Regions from separate parts of the Homo sapiens genome. Here regions 1, 2, 3, 4 and 5 are each reported to be linked to region 6. Evidence: microRNA targets listed by miRTarBase, many of them from high-throughput screens and not tested one by one. Region 6 holds a microRNA gene; each other region holds the end of a gene's coding sequence.

The links. Region 6 holds the annotated microRNA hsa-miR-6867-5p (UGUGUGUGUAGAGGAAGAAGGGA, at 1,525-1,547, shown strand). A microRNA usually pairs through its seed, bases 2 to 8, with sites in the 3' UTR of a target mRNA and lowers its output. Matches are read on the target gene's strand: a 7mer-m8 pairs with bases 2 to 8, a 7mer-A1 pairs with bases 2 to 7 and ends in A, and an 8mer does both.
Region 1: miRTarBase lists NCDN as a target of hsa-miR-6867-5p. Seed matches in the 3' UTR shown: 8mer at 1,224-1,231, 8mer at 1,226-1,233, 8mer at 1,228-1,235, 8mer at 1,230-1,237, 8mer at 1,232-1,239, 8mer at 1,234-1,241 and 17 more.
Region 2: the mRNA of ABHD13 is a reported target of hsa-miR-6867-5p. The part of its 3' UTR that is shown has no 7-base or 8-base seed match.
Region 3: miRTarBase lists ANO8 as a target of hsa-miR-6867-5p. Seed matches in the 3' UTR shown: 7mer-A1 at 2,334-2,340, 8mer at 2,332-2,339, 8mer at 2,330-2,337, 8mer at 2,328-2,335, 8mer at 2,326-2,333, 8mer at 2,324-2,331 and 8 more.
Region 4: the mRNA of ZHX3 is a reported target of hsa-miR-6867-5p. Seed matches in the 3' UTR shown: 7mer-A1 at 711-717, 8mer at 709-716 and 8mer at 707-714.
Region 5: miRTarBase lists DNAJC15 as a target of hsa-miR-6867-5p. Seed matches in the 3' UTR shown: 7mer-A1 at 612-618, 8mer at 613-620, 8mer at 615-622, 8mer at 617-624, 8mer at 619-626, 8mer at 621-628 and 8 more.

The regions. Positions count from the first base shown.
Region 1 is chr1:35,565,407-35,568,528 of GRCh38, forward strand. It overlaps NCDN (neurochondrin), which reads left to right. Exons shown (of 7, transcript NM_014284.3): 7 at 1-1,373. The coding sequence ends at 257. Among named protein-coding and RNA genes, the nearest start is that of TFAP2E, 6.3 kb to the right of the region's middle.
Region 2 is chr13:108,229,829-108,232,950 of GRCh38, reverse strand. ABHD13 (abhydrolase domain containing 13) reads right to left here. Exons shown (of 2, transcript NM_032859.3): 2 at 1-3,122. The coding sequence ends at 2,719. Among named protein-coding and RNA genes, the nearest start is that of ABHD13, 13 kb to the right of the region's middle.
Region 3 is chr19:17,321,005-17,324,126 of GRCh38, forward strand. ANO8 (anoctamin 8) reads right to left here. Exons shown (of 18, transcript NM_020959.3): 18 at 2,219-2,880. The coding sequence ends at 2,513. It overlaps DDA1 (DET1 and DDB1 associated 1), which reads left to right. Exons shown (of 5, transcript NM_024050.6): 5 at 1-2,294. Among named protein-coding and RNA genes, the nearest start is that of ANO8, 12 kb to the right of the region's middle. RefSeq lists enhancers at 352-968, 2,510-2,559.
Region 4 is chr20:41,182,468-41,185,467 of GRCh38, forward strand. ZHX3 (zinc fingers and homeoboxes 3) reads right to left here. Exons shown (of 4, transcript NM_001384317.1): 4 at 1-2,734. The coding sequence ends at 2,724. Among named protein-coding and RNA genes, the nearest start is that of MIR6871, 15 kb to the left of the region's middle.
Region 5 is chr13:43,106,914-43,110,035 of GRCh38, forward strand. It overlaps DNAJC15 (DnaJ heat shock protein family (Hsp40) member C15), which reads left to right. Exons shown (of 6, transcript NM_013238.3): 6 at 265-3,122. The coding sequence ends at 335. Among named protein-coding and RNA genes, the nearest start is that of LINC00400, 4.7 kb to the right of the region's middle.
Region 6 is chr17:40,192,078-40,195,199 of GRCh38, forward strand. MIR6867 (microRNA 6867) reads left to right here and starts at 1,520; the gene lies at 1,520-1,586. It overlaps RAPGEFL1 (Rap guanine nucleotide exchange factor like 1), which reads left to right. Exons shown (of 15, transcript NM_016339.6): 11 at 136-186; 12 at 529-616; 13 at 849-913; 14 at 1,286-1,340; 15 at 1,587-3,122. The coding sequence ends at 1,711. RefSeq lists enhancers at 2,366-2,866, 2,491-2,540.

The DNA.
Region 1 (3,122 bases), not on the chromosome of region 6:
CCGGCTGTGTGCCTCTGCTGCCCTGGCTGGCCCCCGCTGCCCTGCGCTCCCGCTGGCCGCAGGAGCTGCTCCAGCTGCTAGGCAGTGTCAGCCCCAACTCTGTCAAGCCCGAGATGGTGGCCGCCTATCAGGGTGTCCTGGTGGAGCTGGCGCGGGCCAACCGGCTGTGCCGGGAGGCCATGAGGCTGCAGGCGGGCGAGGAGACGGCCAGCCACTACCGCATGGCTGCCTTGGAGCAGTGCCTGTCAGAGCCCTGAGGGGTGTCCACCGGGGACAGACCCAGGGGCGGGCAGAGAGGGAAGGAGGGAGGAGGCATCTTCCCTGAAGCCCCCAATCTGGCCCCCCCCTCCCCAGACTTCCTCCCCAAAACACCCCAGCTTTCTGGCTTTTCTGAGGGCAAGGGCATGGTGCCCACCCCTCAAGTGTAAGGAACTGCGTTCCGCCCCTCAGGCCCCCATGGGGGCAGGGATCGGCTTGGAAATCAACGTGGTTGTCCCCGCCAGGCCGGGGAAGGTTGGAGCAGCCCCCAGGGAGGGGGGCACTAGGTGTCATTGTGCCCGATGTCTGGCTCCCCTGCAGGAGGGAGGCTCCAGGGTAAGACAGGGCTGGCAGGAGCAGACTGCCTCAGCCCATGTGCCCTGCCGGCCAGGGCGTGGGCTCCCCTCGGCTGTGGTGCCTCCTCTGGCCCCCCAGGTCCACGTCCTTTAAATTGGCCCTTTGGCTCTTGCCCTTGGCTCCCTTGGGCAGACAGCAGGCTTAGGCCATTGATATCGCAGTTCTTCCTATCAGCTTCAGTGACCCAGGGTCTGAACTGCCTCCATCCTAGGGCAACCTGGGGCAGACAGGCCTGGTGGGGGGTGGGGAAACCTCCTTCCACCTGAGCTTGCTTGAAGGGACCCAGAGTCTTTGGGCCCAGATCTTTAAACCTTTGTGTCGTGTTGCAGCAGAGTGACGATGGGGGTTGGGGGGTTATTTATTTTGCCTGTCCTTATCCCTGCTTGGACACCTGAGCATCTGATTCCTGTCCCCCTGGTGCCATCTGGCCTGGCTGGAGCCAGGAACAGGAGGGACACTTCCCCAGAATCCGCATGTTTCCCCAGTGATTACACTCCACTGCCACCGTGGTGCCTGGCTTTAACTCCCACCCCTGCTATGACTCCTCTCTGCAGAGACGCGACTGGCGGCTCCAGCAGGGACTACCTTTCTTATAAACCCAGGGGGACCACACACACACACACACACACACACACACACACACACACACACACACACACTCTTGATCCCTTGCTTCCCTCCCCCAGTGCGTTCTGTGATCGCCAAGTTCAAAGCTGTGCACATGTGGACACTCAATAAATGTTCATTGGTGACGAGAAGCCTCCTGCGTGGTCTGCCCTGCACCTGCTCTCTCCCTTCCAGGCTCCATCAGTTCACAGCTACCAGGTGCTGAACACATGCCCTGCTAAACACATCATGAGACCTCATTCAGCCCTTCCAAGAATCCTCTGAAGGGTTCTGATTTTACAGACAAAGCAACTTTGGCATGGATAAGTGATTGGCTCAAGGTGTTGCCGCTAGTCAGTGCCAGAGCCAGGACTCCACACAGGCCATCCGACTCCCCAGCCCACATCTTTCACTTGTACAGCAGATTGCCAAACTCATGTTGATGTGGCCAGGCCTTGTGGGGGCTCTGGTGCTCTCAAGTACAGATGAAACACTGCACCCCCGCCCCCATGTCACTGGGTTGCTGCCAAGTGGCCCTGCCATATCCTCCCATTTTTAAAGAAGTCAGGAATCCTAATTTGTATGTGAAACCCAACTTTTGAATGTCAGTAACTATCTTTAATTAAATAACTACTGATCCAACAAAACATGCAGTCCAAATGTAGCTTTCAGGTTACCAGCTGTTGATCCTGTATGCCAAATGAGAAGCCAGAGGGCCTGCAAGCTTCAGCAGATGAGCCAAGTACCCACTATGGGTACTTCACCAGTCCTGAGCCAAAGCTGTGAGGTTGGAGCCAGACAGGCCCCAGACCCATACCCTCCGCAACCTCCTCCACCTAGGCCCTCAAACCTATAAGCACGTGCTGAGCATAGCCTATGTGCCCACCTGTGGTTGGCTATGCATAGACAGGAATATTTATTTATTGACTGGTTGTACTGAAAGCCATCTTCTTAGCATGGATTCTCTGGGGTAAATATGAAAAGACATAGAGGCTAGGTGTGGTGGCTAACGCCTGTAATCCCAATACTTTGGGAGTCTGAGGTGGGAGGATCACTTGAGCCCAGGAATTCAAGATCAGCCTGGGCAACACAGTGAGACTCCATCTCTACAAAAGAAAAACAATTAGCCGGGCATGGTGCCTCGTGCCTGTAGTCCCTGCTACTCCCGAGACTGAGGCGAGAGGTTCTCTTGAGCCCAGGGGTTTGAGGTTATAGTGAGCTATGATCACACCACTGCATTCCAGCCTGGAAGACAGGGTGAGATCCTGTCTCAAAAAAACAAAAACAAAAACAAAAAAACTGTAAGCAGTGGCTTCTATGTAGGTCCAAACACAGTGTGGCTGGAGCATGCGAGCCCCTCAGACTGGCCAAACGATTGCAGGAAAACTTACAGCAACTATGTGCTCTGAGACTTCAGGGTGAGGAGGGGCTTGCCAGGCAGACACGAAAAGGAACAGCAAGGTCTGAAGGCATGCAAGCTTGAGAACTACGAGTAGTTTCGCATTCCATGGTGTATAGAGTGTGAAGTGTGGAGTGGTGGAAGATGAGGTTGAACCAGCAGGCATGGACCAGATCCTACTGTGCTGTGCTCAGAAGCTTAAACGTGGAATCATGCTGAGAGATCAAATTGCAGTTTTGTTTTTTTTAGAAGCAGGGTCTCACTCTGTTGCCCAGCCTGATCTCGAAACTCATGGCCTCAAGTAATCCTTTTGCCTCAGCCTCCCAAAGTGCTGGGATTGTAGGCATGAGCCACCATCCCCGGCTAGACTGCAGATTTTTTAGCAGATTGAATGTGATCCCGTTTGCATTTTGGGAAGATGAGGCACTGCAAGAGGAATGGCTGAGCCAGGGAGCTCAGAGAGGAGATGCTAAGTCTGAACTAAGCCAGTGGCAATGAGGCT
Region 2 (3,122 bases), not on the chromosome of region 6:
TTATTTTCTACATCTAAATTTAAAAACTGTGTCACACTTTCCTTTCTAGTTGTTTCTATCCTACTAGTATTCTATTACCTGTCACAAATTATTTCTTCTCTTATTTTGCAGAATTCTTTTTAGGGTCCTTTTTATATTTCTTTTTCACCAGTTTTTCCCCCCAATCATTCCCTTTAAAATAATGGATGTGAGATTTTATTCTAAATGAGCTGTATCTTGCCATATTTAAGATCACTCTAGGATCCCCAAATTTATAGTAACTTAATAACTTAAAGTTCTTTTGTAAACTCCTATAGCTGCTCTTGTATAAATAAGTCAGAAGTTAATACACAAGATAGATACATATACTTCCATTCCCACTAAGCAATGGGTCCACAGTAAAGGAGTGACTCCTGAAGAAGTCTCATTTTACTAAAACCAATTGCTTTGGCTACAAAACTAGAAATATTTTCAAAAATGATGCCATGGGCTTCATGGACCCCTGATACTAAGTTTGTTTTCCACCTCTTACCCATCTAAGGAAACAGTCTCAAATACAGATGCTAGTGGTGGTATAGCCCTAGGCACAGCCTCTGCCCTTAGCTGCAGAAAGAAAGGCTCCTTAACCCTAAGAGAATGAAGGTAGGGAACGCCAAACAAGTACTCTACAATTTTTGAAGTCCTGGCTTAAAATTTTAAAAGATAGTTTATAAACCTGGAGTATCAAAAAGAAAAAGCAGCATAAAAGCAAAATACTGATGAAGAAATAGCTTTTATACCTCATGAGCATATTTAGAACTAAAGCTGATAAATTTCTCCCTAGTGTAATGACTGATTACATAAAAACATAAGGTTTTTTTTTGTAAACTTTAAAGAATGATACAAATATAAGGTATGCCATGTAAGCTCGTGTCTAAATATACATTTTGTTGTATTTTCTTTTTAATACATTAATATTTAGAATAGTCATTCTACATAGCAAGGACTGACAAGAATAATCTTTAATTGTGGTGAATTTATACATACAAAATATGCCTTCCATGATATGCATTACCAACTTGTTTTAAAAAGCAAGACTTTTTACAATTAGTAATTTATAGAAAAACATTCTTAGAAATCATACTTGCTATAATTTATTTTTTCTAAATACCGGCATAAAGTGAATAAGAATGCTATTTGGCAAAAGTATTTCTAGCCCTATCTCCATTGAAAGTTTTAAATTAAGGTCAAGATTATTGACCCATTACTTCTCTGTTCTAGTTGCTTGCAGAAAGCCACTAAATATAGCTAAAATATTCAAAATATTATATGTTAAAGCTGACATAATATTACACAAAGCTCAATTACATCTAATTTTTGAGGACTGCATGAAACAACTTGGCACAATTATGACTCATAGCGTGTATTTTTATTAAGTAAATCCTGCAAGTTTCAAGGGGCTTTTTTCTAAGTAAGATTTTCTTACTTTTCTATACATCTAAATCCTACTTCCCACCTATAGCCATTTAACTGCTAAATGTGGTAATAGGTTTTGTGTCAAAAAGCTCCAGAATTCCTTCATTCCCACACTCCTACATGTAAAACTTTTAAAATCAATAAATAAGACTTCCTAAAACTGTCTTTTGATTGTAGGAGTTCTATTTCACAGCAACTGGAACATTAAAACCAAGAACATTGTTTTGTTGTTGTTGTTGTTGGATTTTGTAACTTTTATTTTCAAGAAGTCCAATAAATGATATCTTGCCTTTGATAGGTTAGATATAACTAGGTACTGGGATTTAAAATCAAAGGTGAGAATTTTTATAAAGTAGTATGTACAATCCTGCAATGATAAAAGACTTCCTAATTTAATTCTAAGTAGTGCTAATCTTCACTATGACTGCTATTAGTGGTTCAGCTGAAGACTTACAAAATCGATAGAAGCTAAAATTCTCTTTGCCACCAAAGTTACAAATGTTAAAAAGTTCAAATATGCACATCAAAGCTGCAGTAAAATTCTAAATTTCTATTTCTACATGCCATGATCCAGACTGTACCTAACAAAAACACGGTACATTTGTATTGGAAAACAGGGTCCCATTTATTTGTAAGAAAAAGCTGGATCTCAGCATTCACCAGAGCAAAATTCAATGGCAACCTGCACATAAGTCTCAATTTCACTTCTTGCCAAAAACAAAATAGAGTTTACATAAAAATAGATATAACCCAGATAACCATATACATCAGTATATGACCAGTGCTATTTACATGTAAAATGTTGCATTGCATAATTCAAGGAATAAAATACCATCATGCATTTCATTTAACTTTTAAGGTGAAAAATGCAGTTACAGAACTAAGTTTGCTTACCATGATTGTCCCAATATTTACTTAAGAAACAATACCCAAAGGTTTCTTGTTTACATATCTCTTTCCACATCTAGCTATTCATCTGTGTAACAGATTACACCACTTTAGCAACAAGAAACTTTTGAACAATATCTATTATACTGACATATTAAACTGAAGATATGAATACATAATCACACTGAAAGTTTTGATGAAAATGTATGAAAGAATCCCAAGAATTAGTTTTTCCAATGTAAAAAACTATTTGGAATATCGTAAAGGAGCAGTGAAGTCCTTTCAAAGTTTAATGTCACTCTTCAGACAGGTACAGACATAACACACTTCTAAAAGGAACATTCTTTATCATTCTGCACAAATTAAAATACAATGCAATAATCAAAAAGGGAAACATTATATAATTGTTACATTAGATGAAGTTTTTGCCATTTCTTCAGGAGAATGGCTCTTTACGACTTCTTTGATGAACTGTTCAAGTGCAGTGAAATAGCCTTGGCACTGCCATGTGTCATTGTGAGTCCCATCTGGAAAAATGGCTAATCTCTTAGTCCGAGATGGGGAGAGTTCATAAAGTTGTTTCATCATTACTGGTGGAATTAATTGATCTGAGAGTCCAGAGATGAAAAGTGAAGGCATTCTACACTGAGAGATTTTTCTGTAGGACAAAAATTTATTTTTGTAGCACCATAAAGGAAGGTAACGCATCGGAAAGAATGAAAATAAAGTGCTGGCCATATGTGGTATGCTTAAAAATGTGTTCTCCACCATAATGGCTGAAATCCTATGTGAATTTTCAG
Region 3 (3,122 bases), not on the chromosome of region 6:
TTGTACTCTTTCCCAGGCTGGAGTGCAGTGGCGTAATCACAGCTCACTGCAGCCTCGACCTCAAGCCTTCCTCCCACCTCAGCCTTCCAAGCCGCTGGGACCACAGGCACCCACCACCATGCCTGGCTAATTTTTTTTTTTTTTTGAGATGGAGTCTCGCTGTGTCTCCCAGGCTGGAGTGCAGTGGCAAGATCTCAGCTCACTACAACCTCTGCCTCCCAGGTTCAAGTGATTCTCCTACCTCAGCCTCCTGAGTAGCTGGGATTACACGCGTGCGCCCCTACACCCAGCTAATTTTTCTATTTTTAGTGGAGACGGCGTTTTGTCATGTTGGCCAGGCTGGTCTCGAACTCCTGACCTCAGGTGCTTCGCCTGCCTCGGCCTCCCAAAGTGCTGTGACCGCACCTGGCTGCCTGGCTAATATTTTAAAAATTTTTTGTAGAGACAGGGTTTCACCATGTTGCCCAGGCTGGTCTCAAACTCCTGGGCTCAAGTCATCCACCTTCCTCAGCCTCCCAAAGTGCTGGGGTTACAGACGTGAACCACCGTGCCTGGCAGAGGTCTCTGTTTTGAGAGCTGAGTCTGAGGGCGTTGGGATGGTGTAGGGTTGGGCCACAGAGCTAGCAGACACTCCGGGCTATGGAGGGTCCGCCTGCCCCAGATTCCACTGTGGAGGGCCCTGCCTGTGTCAGACCCTCGGGCCTAGGCGGCCCATCTCTCCCAAGGACGGAGAGTGCCAGGGTGGGCTCCCGTCCTACACAAGGAGTGGCTGACCAGGCCCAGGCACAGCACAGCCACCCTGCTGTACCTCCCAGCTCCCGGCAGTGTCTACACCACAGTGATGGTGCTACAGGGGCCATGTGGTCACAGGACAGGTGGTCAGGAAATGCACACTTGACTGCGGTCGATGGTGCCGGGTCCGGCTGAATGCCCTGGAGGCTCCCAGGCCAGCTGGGGAGTCCCAGTCCCCAGGGTTGGTGTGACCTGGGCAGGCCTGCGGTGTCCATCTGTGAATGACTGAGATGGTGGGACTTCAGCTTCCAAGGCCAGGGGCCAGAGTGGGAGCAGGGGGCACTCCCGCCTTTCCCCTCGGCCTGTCTAGACCTCTCTGGCTCCCAGTTTCTGCTTTGAGTGGCTGGGGGCTGTCTCCTGCCTGTGCTGTCTGCCCGTCGCTCTGCAGGGCTGCTGGGCGGGCACCTCCTTCCCCTCCCCTACCTCAGCTCCCTCCTTTGGGGTCTGAGGGCTGTGCCCCAGCTTGCCTCCCTGTGGCCTCCCCCTAGAACCCCTGGGTCTGTCGGGACATGCCCCACCTGGCACACACACCCTGTGTAGCTCCCACTGCCTGTGGGAGGACGCTGGGCCCCTGAGCCGGCCTCTGTCTACCCCTCCTGCCTTTGGGGTCCCCTTTACCCCACTGTTCCCCCAAACTGCCTTCCACCTTCTCCGCCTTTGCACAGGCTGTTCTCCTGCCTCCAGTGAACTCTGACTTCTCCACAGCCTCCCAAAGGGCCCCTTGCTCACACTGGCCCAGCCCTGCAGCATGGCCATGTTGGTCTCTGAGCCTTAAGCCTTTGGATGTGGACACATTTGTCCTCTTCCTGAAAAATGTGAGGGTCTGAGAGGCCACGTTCCTGTTCCTGAGTCATACGACAGAGTCCCAGTGACTTGGGTCTGATGTCTGTCCCACAGTGGGACATCCCTGCTGCATCCCAATGCCACCCCGTGTCCTGGGGACACCCAAATGTGCCATTCTCTCAGTATCACAAGTCGGGGACTGCAGGAGGCTCAGGTGCCAGGTGCCTTCTGATGTTCATGCCACAAGCTCTTCCCACTGTCTCTGGCTCCCCAGACGATGTTCCAGGAGGCGGGTGTGCCAGAAGGGGCCACGTCTTGCAAACCACCGCGCTGTCCTCTTTGAGAAGGAGTCTTACTCAGGACTGGGGCCTGTGCACACATTGTCGCCTCTTTTCAGCACTTAGAGATTCCTTCCTTTGTCTAGTGGCTGAAGCCAGGGCTGAAGTTGGCCTCCAAATCTGGGCCGTCTCAGAGGCGGCGCAGCCTGGAGTTTTCCATCTGTGGCCAAGACCCAGTTTTTGGGAGGAGGCCCTCATGGGTCAAGCCAGCCTGTACCAGGATGGGGGGAGGGGGTTCCCAACCTAGGCCCCAGCCACCCAGACTCCCCCACCCCCACTCCCTTTTCCACTGCTCTGACCTCGGGCACTGTTGAAATATAGTTTTTATTGCATTTCTGCCGTTTTACAAAAATATGACAAAATAAATTAAAAACAAATAAATAATCGCCTGTTCTGTGTGTGTGTGTGTGTGTGTGTGTGTGTGTGTTTTCTGTTGGATTTGTGGGTTTCCTTTCGTTTGGAAAGGAAAACGGCAGATGGGGGGCACCGACCAATACTGGGGGCCCTCGGGGGCTGAAGCGCATTTTGCATTTTGGAGACCGGCCGCCCCTGTGAATGACTGATATTGCATATGAGAAGAGAAGGCAGGGCGGGTAGAGCTAATGCCAGCCGCTGGGCCAGCACACGGCCTGGGGGCTGGGGCTGGGGCTAGGGGAGGGCGCTGGGGTCTCGAGGGGATCCGAGGTGGGCGGTAGCGGTGGGGGCGGGAGGCTGTAAAAGCTGGCGTCTCCCGGCAGGGGCTGGGGGGCGGGTGGGGGCCCGGCCATGGCACAGGGTGGGCACTCGGCAGCGGCCAGGGCCTGGCGGGGGGCGGCACCCTCGCCCCCGCAGCCCCAGGGCCCGTCCCACTGCCAGCAGCCTGCGGGCGGTGTCGGGGGCCGGGGCAGCGGCATTGGCGGCGGCGGCGCGGGGCTCCGGCTGCGGCGGGTGCGGAGGGCAGGGGCGCCCACGGGGGCCAGCGCTGTCCCTGCGGAGGCGAGAGGGGCCGTTCCGGGGGGATGCCGCCCCCGCCGGACCCCGCCGGGCTGGCAACCCTGCCCGCGCTCCCTCCCGGGCATCCAGGCACATAAAGGCCTTATTGCTTCTGATCAGAGACTGAGGTGGGGCGGCCCCCTGGGCGGCTTCCGGTGCATACCCTGCCTCTGGGCACGGCCCTGCCGGTCACAGGGGGAGGACAGTTTGAGGAAGTCCCTCTGGCTTCTGACCTAT
Region 4 (3,000 bases), not on the chromosome of region 6:
CCCACTGCCACTGGGCTAGTGTGGGTGTGTCTCTGTGCACGACTGGCTGGATTCAGGGTTTTGCCCCCAAACCCTTGAGTACCTCCTACAATGTCCCTTTAAGCACCTGCGTGATGACTGCCTCCCTCATCATCGCTTTTGATCATCTTTCAAGGATAAGGTCCAGAGCATACTCACTCACTCTCATCCAACAGCAGAGGAAGAAGGATCTGTCCAGACTGCTGGGCTCCTTACATGGGCATTCTTGCCTTTTGTAGTGTAGCCCTGGCTGTTGGGCAGGGCTAACATCTATAAGAAAAACATACCAGGGCAGGCAGCACTGTACTTTTCCACCTGAAAGATGAGCTAGTGCCCATGGCTGGGTCACTGTAGGTCCTGCATGAACTTGTCCACCAACTGTGTTTTGCTGTTTGGGTTGTAAATTAACCGTGAATACAAGTAACCAAGAAAATCCTCTCCACAGACCAACTCTTCAGCCAGTGCATGCAGGGCTCTGGAGGTGATGCCAGCAGGATCTGGAGGTGAGGCACTGGGTGGTTTCTCAGACACCCGGAGATGGCTTCAGCCTGGGCCGCCCCAGCTGCCTAGTGCACTGGTGTCCCTCCAACACAGGCTACTCCCCCAACACCCATGTGCCACCAAGTTTCTCAACTGCACACGCCAGATGCGCGTTTTACGAGAATCAAATGAGTATTTATACTGTATATGTGTGTGTGTATATATATATATATAAATTAATCTGCACGTATATAAACACTAAAAGGAGAAATTCCAAGTGTCTGTTCTCTGAAGGAAAGCAATCACTCGCCATTCTTGGCAATTCCTCAAAGGTTTTTGAGACCAAACATCTTTACTCCCCAAATTAAGAATACAAAAATAGGCTGCAAAACTTGCCAAGTACTCACAAGTCCCTGTTTGAGACAAATAAGATGTGGTCCCTATTGGGACAGGGAGGGCAGAAGATGACACTTTAGAAGAACATGATTTTGGTTTCAAAAGCAAGACCTCTCCTGGAAGGCAGAAGGGGCCACCGCCATGCTTGTCCTTGGAGCCACATGAGCACGGTGCCCTGCCAGGTCCAGTTCCCTGGGTAGGGGAGAAGGACGGTCCCTAAAACACCACCAGTGCTTCTTGCCCAAAGCCCTTGCCCTCTCTCTGGGGTCTTCTAGCACTGTCACTCTGCCCAGCCCAGGAGGTGTCTGTGCCCACGAAGCCTGGTACTTGTGGCTTGGCACTCTGGGAAGCAGGTGGTTTCTAAGAAATGAGCGGAGCTACAGGTGGACAGGTCTTTAGTTCGCCCCTCTTTACCAGCTACTCTCAGAGCAACCGGTCTTGGGGAAATTGAGGATTTACCATTTAGAACAGCTCTGTAAGCAAGTTTTCTAATTTTCAAAGGCACCATTTCCTGTAATTTTCTCAATTCAAAAAAGGACATGAGGGTTAGGCTAAAGTAGAGTTCTTGTTTCCAAGTTTGGGGACATAAATATAAAACTTTAAAAGCATCCTCACAAGGACCAGTGATGCCCAGCACCCTTGGGCATGCATCCAGCACACCGGCCAGACCCTGGGGTGGGAGCCACGGGCACTCTGGGTGTTCTGCCAGGGATCTCTGCATGCAAGTCTTTGTGCTAAAGACCACCCTACCTCTGATAATTCCAAGAAGTCAACAAATCCCTCCAGCCTTCACCCTTACTAATGGGCCAGTGTGTTATTCCTTCCCAAACCATAGGAGGCTCTGAAATGAGTGTGGAGAAAGGGCTCTGAAAACCGCAGTGGTCAAAGCTTCAGGCTGTGGCTATAGATTTCCACTTACGTCCCTACCCCATGTCTTTTTTCCATCTTTCTCTCACTCCAAACATGTCTAGATTAAAAAAAAAATGCAGGCACATAGGTCAGCACATTAGGCTTAACAACAAATGTTTCTTTAGTTGATCTGATAACTGAAAAGTTATGGTCCATGATTCAAACTCCCATGAAAAAGCAGAATTACGGTAACAACTAAAGAGAATGGTAAAGCATCCAACGCTAATCACATTGCCAGTCCATTTTTTGAACTGAGGGTTACAGCAGGTTCTGCACTGAGTAGCCCACAAGGCAAAGCAAGCCTGACATGAAACGTAGCCGGTCATCACTTAATGCAGCAGAGATCTCTTCAAAGGTACTGCTTCCTTGAGGAACACAAAGGGGGCACAAAGGGGTTCCAGACGTAGCTTTGTGCCTATAACTTCCCTGCCTGACTGTGGAAGGTGAGGGGCACCTGTGACCCAGCAATCCCCAGAGAACAGACACAGGTCATTTTTAGAGATGACGTAACTGACAATGCACTGCTTGGCTAACCAAAGTTTCTACGTAATGACAGTGTTGATAATCTGATGTTTTATTTAACATATAGAGGTGGATGTATATGTTAAAAGCTTGATTCTGTGTCTATGAATATGACTATGAACTCTGAACTATTTTATCCATTGGAAGGTAAAGGAAAGGTCCTACATTGTGGGAGGAAGAACTGATGAGAACCCCATCTTGCTTGCTGCTTGCTTGGTGGTGGGCAGGCCGAGGGTAGCGGCAGGCTCTGGGCTGTCTGCGAGGATTCTGGAAGCTCTCCCAGGTGCCCAGCAGCCGGGCATGGGAACGGCATGTGGCAGCAGAGAGTCGGGTTTGGCTCTTCCACGTGGCAGGCGGTTTCCCAGACTGGCCAGTCCTTCACATTAATCAGATCAAATTCAGTCTGTTTCTGAGAAGAAAACACATGCCTGTCACTCTACGGCAGCTGCCACCACCTGCCCCCCAGGCAGCCTGGTCCTTGCTATACCAGGGTGGCATCACTGGCTTTGAGGACCTCTTAATTCCATGAGCAATGAATGGCCTTCTGCCACCCACTCCCCCACCCTCCAGCCTGAGGGAATGTGGGTTAAGGACAGGATGCTGGCTCAACCTTGTAAGGCCATCAGACTCTCTGAGAGACCCTGCTAAACCCTAGGCCTAGCAGCAGGAGCAGTG
Region 5 (3,122 bases), not on the chromosome of region 6:
AGTTGAATGTTGTTCAAGTTATTCCTGATTATAACTTTCTTTCATCATTTTTCTCAGAGGTTTTTTTTTATTGTTGGGTAGTTGTAGGACTTCACTAATCAAGTTTAATTTATACTGTTTTGATTTCTAGTTAGCTTATAAAATAATTTGTCAGAGGATTAATGTGTGAGACAATATTCAAAAAAGAGTATTTTTATATTTTGGGGACTTTAAAGTATGTCAATGATGAAATGTATTTTAATTCATTTTTCTTTGTTCTCTCAGGTGGATCTCCTTACGTAGCAGCCAAAATAAATGAAGCAAAAGACTTGCTAGAAACAACCACCAAACATTGATGCTTAAGGACCACACTGAAGGAAAAAAAAAGAGGGGACTTCGAAAAAAAAAAAAGCCCTGCAAAATATTCTAAAACATGGTCTTCTTAATTTTCTATATGGATTGACCACAGTCTTATCTTCCACCATTAAGCTGTATAACAATAAAATGTTAATAGTCTTGCTTTTTATTATCTTTTAAAGATCTCCTTAAATTCTATAACTGATCTTTTTTCTTATTTTGTTTGTGACATTCATACATTTTTAAGATTTTTGTTATGTTCTGAATTCCCCCCTACACACACACACACACACACACACACACACACGTGCAAAAAATATGATCAAGAATGCAATTGGGATTTGTGAGCAATGAGTAGACCTCTTATTGTTTATATTTGTACCCTCATTGTCAATTTTTTTTTAGGGAATTTGGGACTCTGCCTATATAAGGTGTTTTAAATGTCTTGAGAACAAGCACTGGCTGATACCTCTTGGAGATATGATCTGAAATGTAATGGAATTTATTAAATGGTGTTTAGTAAAGTAGGGGTTAAGGACTTGTTAAAGAACCCCACTATCTCTGAGACCCTATAGCCAAAGCATGAGGACTTGGAGAGCTACTAAAATGATTCAGGTTTACAAAATGAGCCCTGTGAGGAAAGGTTGAGAGAAGTCTGAGGAGTTTGTATTTAATTATAGTCTTCCAGTACTGTATATTCATTCATTACTCATTCTACAAATATTTATTGACCCCTTTTGATGTGCAAGGCACTATCGTGCGTCCCCTGAGAGTTGCAAGTATGAAGCAGTCATGGATCATGAACCAAAGGAACTTATATGTAGAGGAAGGATAAATCACAAATAGTGAATACTGTTAGATACAGATGATATATTTTAAAAGTTCAAAGGAAGAAAAGAATGTGTTAAACACTGCATGAGAGGAGGAATAAGTGGCATAGAGCTAGGCTTTAGAAAAGAAAAATATTCCGATACCATATGATTGGTGAGGTAAGTGTTATTCTGAGATGAGAATTAGCAGAAATAGATATATCAATCGGAGTGATTAGAGTGCAGGGTTTCTGGAAAGCAAGGTTTGGACAGAGTGGTCATCAAAGGCCAGCCCTGTGACTTACACTGCATTAAATTAATTTCTTAGAACATAGTCCCTGATCATTATCACTTTACTATTCCAAAGGTGAGAGAACAGATTCAGATAGAGTGCCAGCATTGTTTCCCAGTATTCCTTTACAAATCTTGGGTTCATTCCAGGTAAACTGAACTACTGCATTGTTTCTATCTTAAAATACTTTTTAGATATCCTAGATGCATCTTTCAACTTCTAACATTCTGTAGTTTAGGAGTTCTCAACCTTGGCATTATTGACATGTTAGGCCAAATAATTTTTTTTGTGGGAGGTCTCTTGTGCGTTTTAGATGATTAGCAATAATCCCTGACCTGTTATCTACTAAAGACTAGTCGTTTCTCATCAGTTGTGACAACAAAAATGGTTCCAGATATTGCCAAATGCCCTTTAGAGGACAGTAATCGCCCCCAGTTGAGAACCATTTCAGTAAAACTTTAATTACTATTTTTTCTTTTGGTTTATAAAATAATGATCCTGAATTAAATTGATGGAACCTTGAAGTCGATAAAATATATTTCTTGCTTTAAAGTCCCCATACGTGTCCTACTAATTTTCTCATGCTTTAGTGTTTTCACTTTTCTCCTGTTATCCTTGTACCTAAGAATGCCATCCCAATCCCCAGATGTCCACCTGCCCAAAGTCTAGGCATAGCTGAAGGCCAAGCTAAAATGTATCCCTCTTTTTCTGGTACATGCAGCAAAAGTAATATGAATTATCAGCTTTCTGAGAGCAGGCATTGTATCTGTCTTGTTTGGTGTTACATTGGCACCCAATAAATATTTGTTGAGTGAATGAATAAATTCCCATAGCACTTTATTCTTCACATGGTACATAACTATAGGGGCTATAGCTTGGTACCTTGTGAAGCAACTCTTGGTGTAACATACCTTATTTCTCATACTAAAATGCAAGAACCTTTAGAGCAAGGATCTTGCCATTCATCTTTGTAACCTCTTTACTCTGGAGCACTTGCATTTAGCAGGCATCATAAAGTTTTACGTACCAAGAAAATGTTGCTGTTTTCTGAATACTATGCATCAAAAAATGTTACCACTAATTTTTAAAGCTCTGCTAAGGAATATTGGGGCACCCTCAGATGCACCTTTTAATTGATGTCATATTTTCCTAATCCATACTTTATTCATGAGAATTTGAGTCACCCCAGCATTAGCTTGGAATTTCCTTATTTCCCATTTGCTTTGCAGGTGCCTTGGAGTCAGATCTGGTTTTGAATACTATCTTCCTGTTATGTGATCTTGGGCAGTTACTTAATTTTCTAGTCAATAACCCGTATCTATAAAATAGAGAAAATAATCCTACACACCGGGGCCTGTTGTGGGGCGGGGAGAGGGGGGAGGGATCGCATTTGGAGATATACTAATGTAAATGACAAGTTAATTGGTGCAGCACACCAACATGGCTCATGTCTACATATGTAACAAACCTGCACGTTGTGCACATGTGCCCTAGAACTTAAAGTATAATAAAAAGAAATTTTAAAAAATCCTGTCAAATAAGGTTATAGTAGAGAATAAGGATGTGTAAAGCATTTAGTCACGTAAATGCTTAAAAAAATGTAATTTTTACTTCTTTCACTGCCTCATTTAATTAGTTTTATCTTTAATAATACCTTGGATTCAGGGTAAAGTTTCAGTTATGTC
Region 6 (3,122 bases):
CACCCACCAGCTTCCCAGCCCCCTACAAGCCATGCAGGCCCTTTTGCCCTCCAACAGGGAGAATTAATCCGAGGCTCCCATGTAACCCAAGGAGCTCCACTCTGATATCCCTTCTCCTTCCTTCAAACTCTGCAGAAGCTGCCAGGGAAATTCAAGAACTTGTTTCGCAAATTTGAGAACCTGACGGTGAGTGGGTTTGGCTCTTTCTTCTGCTCTTGGACTGAGAGCCCAGAAACCCTCTGTTCCCATAAACCCCCTTCCTCAAGCTTTCCTTTCAAGGTGTTTAGTGTATGGGACCCCCCACCCTCCTTACCATGCTGGAGGGTGAGGTTGGAAGGATTGCGCCCCTGTTTTTCTTGAAGGAAAGGGGGAGTAGTCAGGTCCCTCCCCACCACACCATTAGAAAGCCCCCAGCACCCCTATCTGATCAGGAATGTATACAAGGCAGGGGGTGAGGGAGGAAGCTGAGGACATCTTTGGGATGCATTGGCCAGTCTGTCCCTTGATCTCTCTCCTGTGGAATACTAGGACCCCTGCAGGAACCACAAAAGCTACCGAGAAGTGATCTCCAAAATGAAGCCCCCTGTGATTCCCTTCGTGCCTCTGATCCTCAAAGGTGAGAGAGTTACTCCCAAGCTGTGCCGCTTCCACCCATGCTTCCCTTCTCCTATGCCCTGCTTCTGACTTCCAGCTCCCTCTCGACTCAGCCCTGAGTACCCACCTGGAGAGGAGCCCCCCACCACAGACGGAGTGGGTTCTGGGGAAGAGCGGGGTCCTCGGGTGCAGTGGCCCCTTTCGAACTCCTCTCTTATCCTTTCCTCACATTGGATTCTCTCCACATCCCCTAGACCTGACTTTCCTGCACGAAGGGAGTAAGACCCTTGTAGATGGTTTGGTGAACATCGAGAAGCTGGTGAGTGAGTGGCACTGCAAACCCCTAGTCCCACAAGTGGGGGGCTTGCATCCTCTCCCTCTCTCATCACCTCCCAAAAATAGCAGCCTTCCTCCAAGTGCCCAGCTTGCCTAACAGACTCTTGACTGTCTCCCTGGTGGCATCACTGTGGCAACCCACCCACAGGTGGCAGAGCTGACAGGCAGCTTGGGGGCAACTTCACCTCCCCCTCACATGGCACTCTGTTACACCCACTCCTTTGGTCCTTCAGAGACCCTCCAGAATTGGAGACTGGAGGGAGTAAAGCAGAGTGGGAGAATGGCGGAGGGGGAGCATAAGAGGGGGAGCCTCTTTCTGTGCCCCTTTCAAGGCTCATTCCTTGTCATCTCCCAGCATTCAGTGGCCGAAAAAGTGAGGACAATCCGCAAATACCGGAGCCGGCCCCTTTGTGAGTACCCAGGGTACTGAGAGCAGTACAGATAGAGCTTTGACTGAACGGGAGGGTTCAGGGGAGAACTCCCTGTCCAGATGTGTATTTCCATACACTTGCTGGTTCCCCATTCTCTCCTTGCCTCTGCAGAGGCCTTCCTGCCCAACATCTGTCTCAGTCCACAGCCTGATCTTCTGCCCGGTGTGTGTGTAGAGGAAGAAGGGAAGCTGGGAACCTGACTGCCTCTCCCTCTTTACCCACTAGGCCTGGACATGGAGGCATCCCCCAATCACCTGCAGACCAAGGCCTATGTGCGCCAGTTTCAGGTCATCGACAACCAGAACCTCCTCTTCGAGCTCTCCTACAAGCTGGAGGCAAACAGTCAGTGAGAGTGGAGGCTCCAGTCAGACCCGCCAGATCCTTGGGCACCTGGCACTCAAGCACTTTGCACGATGTCTCAACCAACATCTGACATCTTTCCCGTGGAGCAACTTCCTGCTCCACGGGAAAGAGGTCGATGGATTTACCCCTGGACCCATAAGTCTGTTCATCCTGCTGAAGTCCCCTCCCCATTGCTCCTTCAAGCCAAAACTACACTTTGCTGGTTCCTGTCCCCTCTGAGAAAGGGGATAGAAAGCTCCTTCCTCTATGTCCTCCCATCGAGATCTGTTCTGGGGATGGAGCTTCCAACTTCCTCTTGCAGCAGGAAAGAATGCTGCTCACCCTTCTGTCTTGCAGAGTGGGATTGTGGGAGGGATTGGCAGCCTTCTTCTCCACCACCTGTCCAGCTTCTTCCTGGTCAGGGCTGGGACCCCCAGGAATATTATGTTGCCGTGTGTGTGTGTGTGTGTGTGTGTGTGTGTGTGTGTGTGTGTGTGTGTGTGTGTGTGTCTTCTTTTAGGGAGCAGGAGTGCATCTGGTAATTGAGGGTGGATGTTGTGTGTGCTGGGGAGGGGTCCTTCTGTTTGGTGCTACCCTTGTCTACTCTGCCCCTGGATGGTGCGGGGTGCTTTCTCCACCCCCACACTCCCTGCTCAGCTCCTCGTGCTGCCCTGCATGCCCAGGCTTGTGAGCCAAGCTGCTTTTTGGGGCAGGGAGTAGCAGCAGGTGGGAGGGGTTACCCATCAGCCCTTGCAAGTCCCCCACTCAGGCCTCTGGAAGGTCCAGGGATGGGCTCTGATGAGAGGGTAAAAGATGCTCAGGGAAACACAGGCCTCAGCTGCCTAGAGGACCCTCCCCCTGCCTTGCAGTGGGCTCGGGTAGAGCAGTATCAGGAGCTAGGGTTGTCTGCTGCCCACACTCCTGCTTTTTGGGATATCTAACTGCTAAGGAGGGAGTTGACATCCCCCTTCTGGCTCATGTGTCTGACACCAACAACATGGTCTCTGTCCCTCTCTCTTTGACTCTCCCTTTGTCCTCCCCATAGAGCTGGGGTGGGGTGGATCCCTATACCTGGGGCAGGCAGCCCCAAAGTGGGGGAGGGGGATGGCAGAGACTGTAAAGGCGCCACTGGACTCTGGCAAGGCCTTTATTACCTTTACTCCCCTCCCTCTCCCATCACCAGCCTCAAGGCCTGAGGGGTGCAGGGGCTCCTGGCAGCTACTGGGTGAGGTTTCCTGGCACAGACTCACCCTTCTTTCTGGCACCACCTCTTTCCCTTTTGAAGAGACAGCAACAGCCGTAGCAAAAGCAGCTGCTGCTCCTGCTATGAGGGTGTATATATTTTTTACCCAAAGCTCTGGAATTGTACATTTATTTTTTAAAACTCAAAGAGGGAAAGAGCCTTGTATCATATGTGAA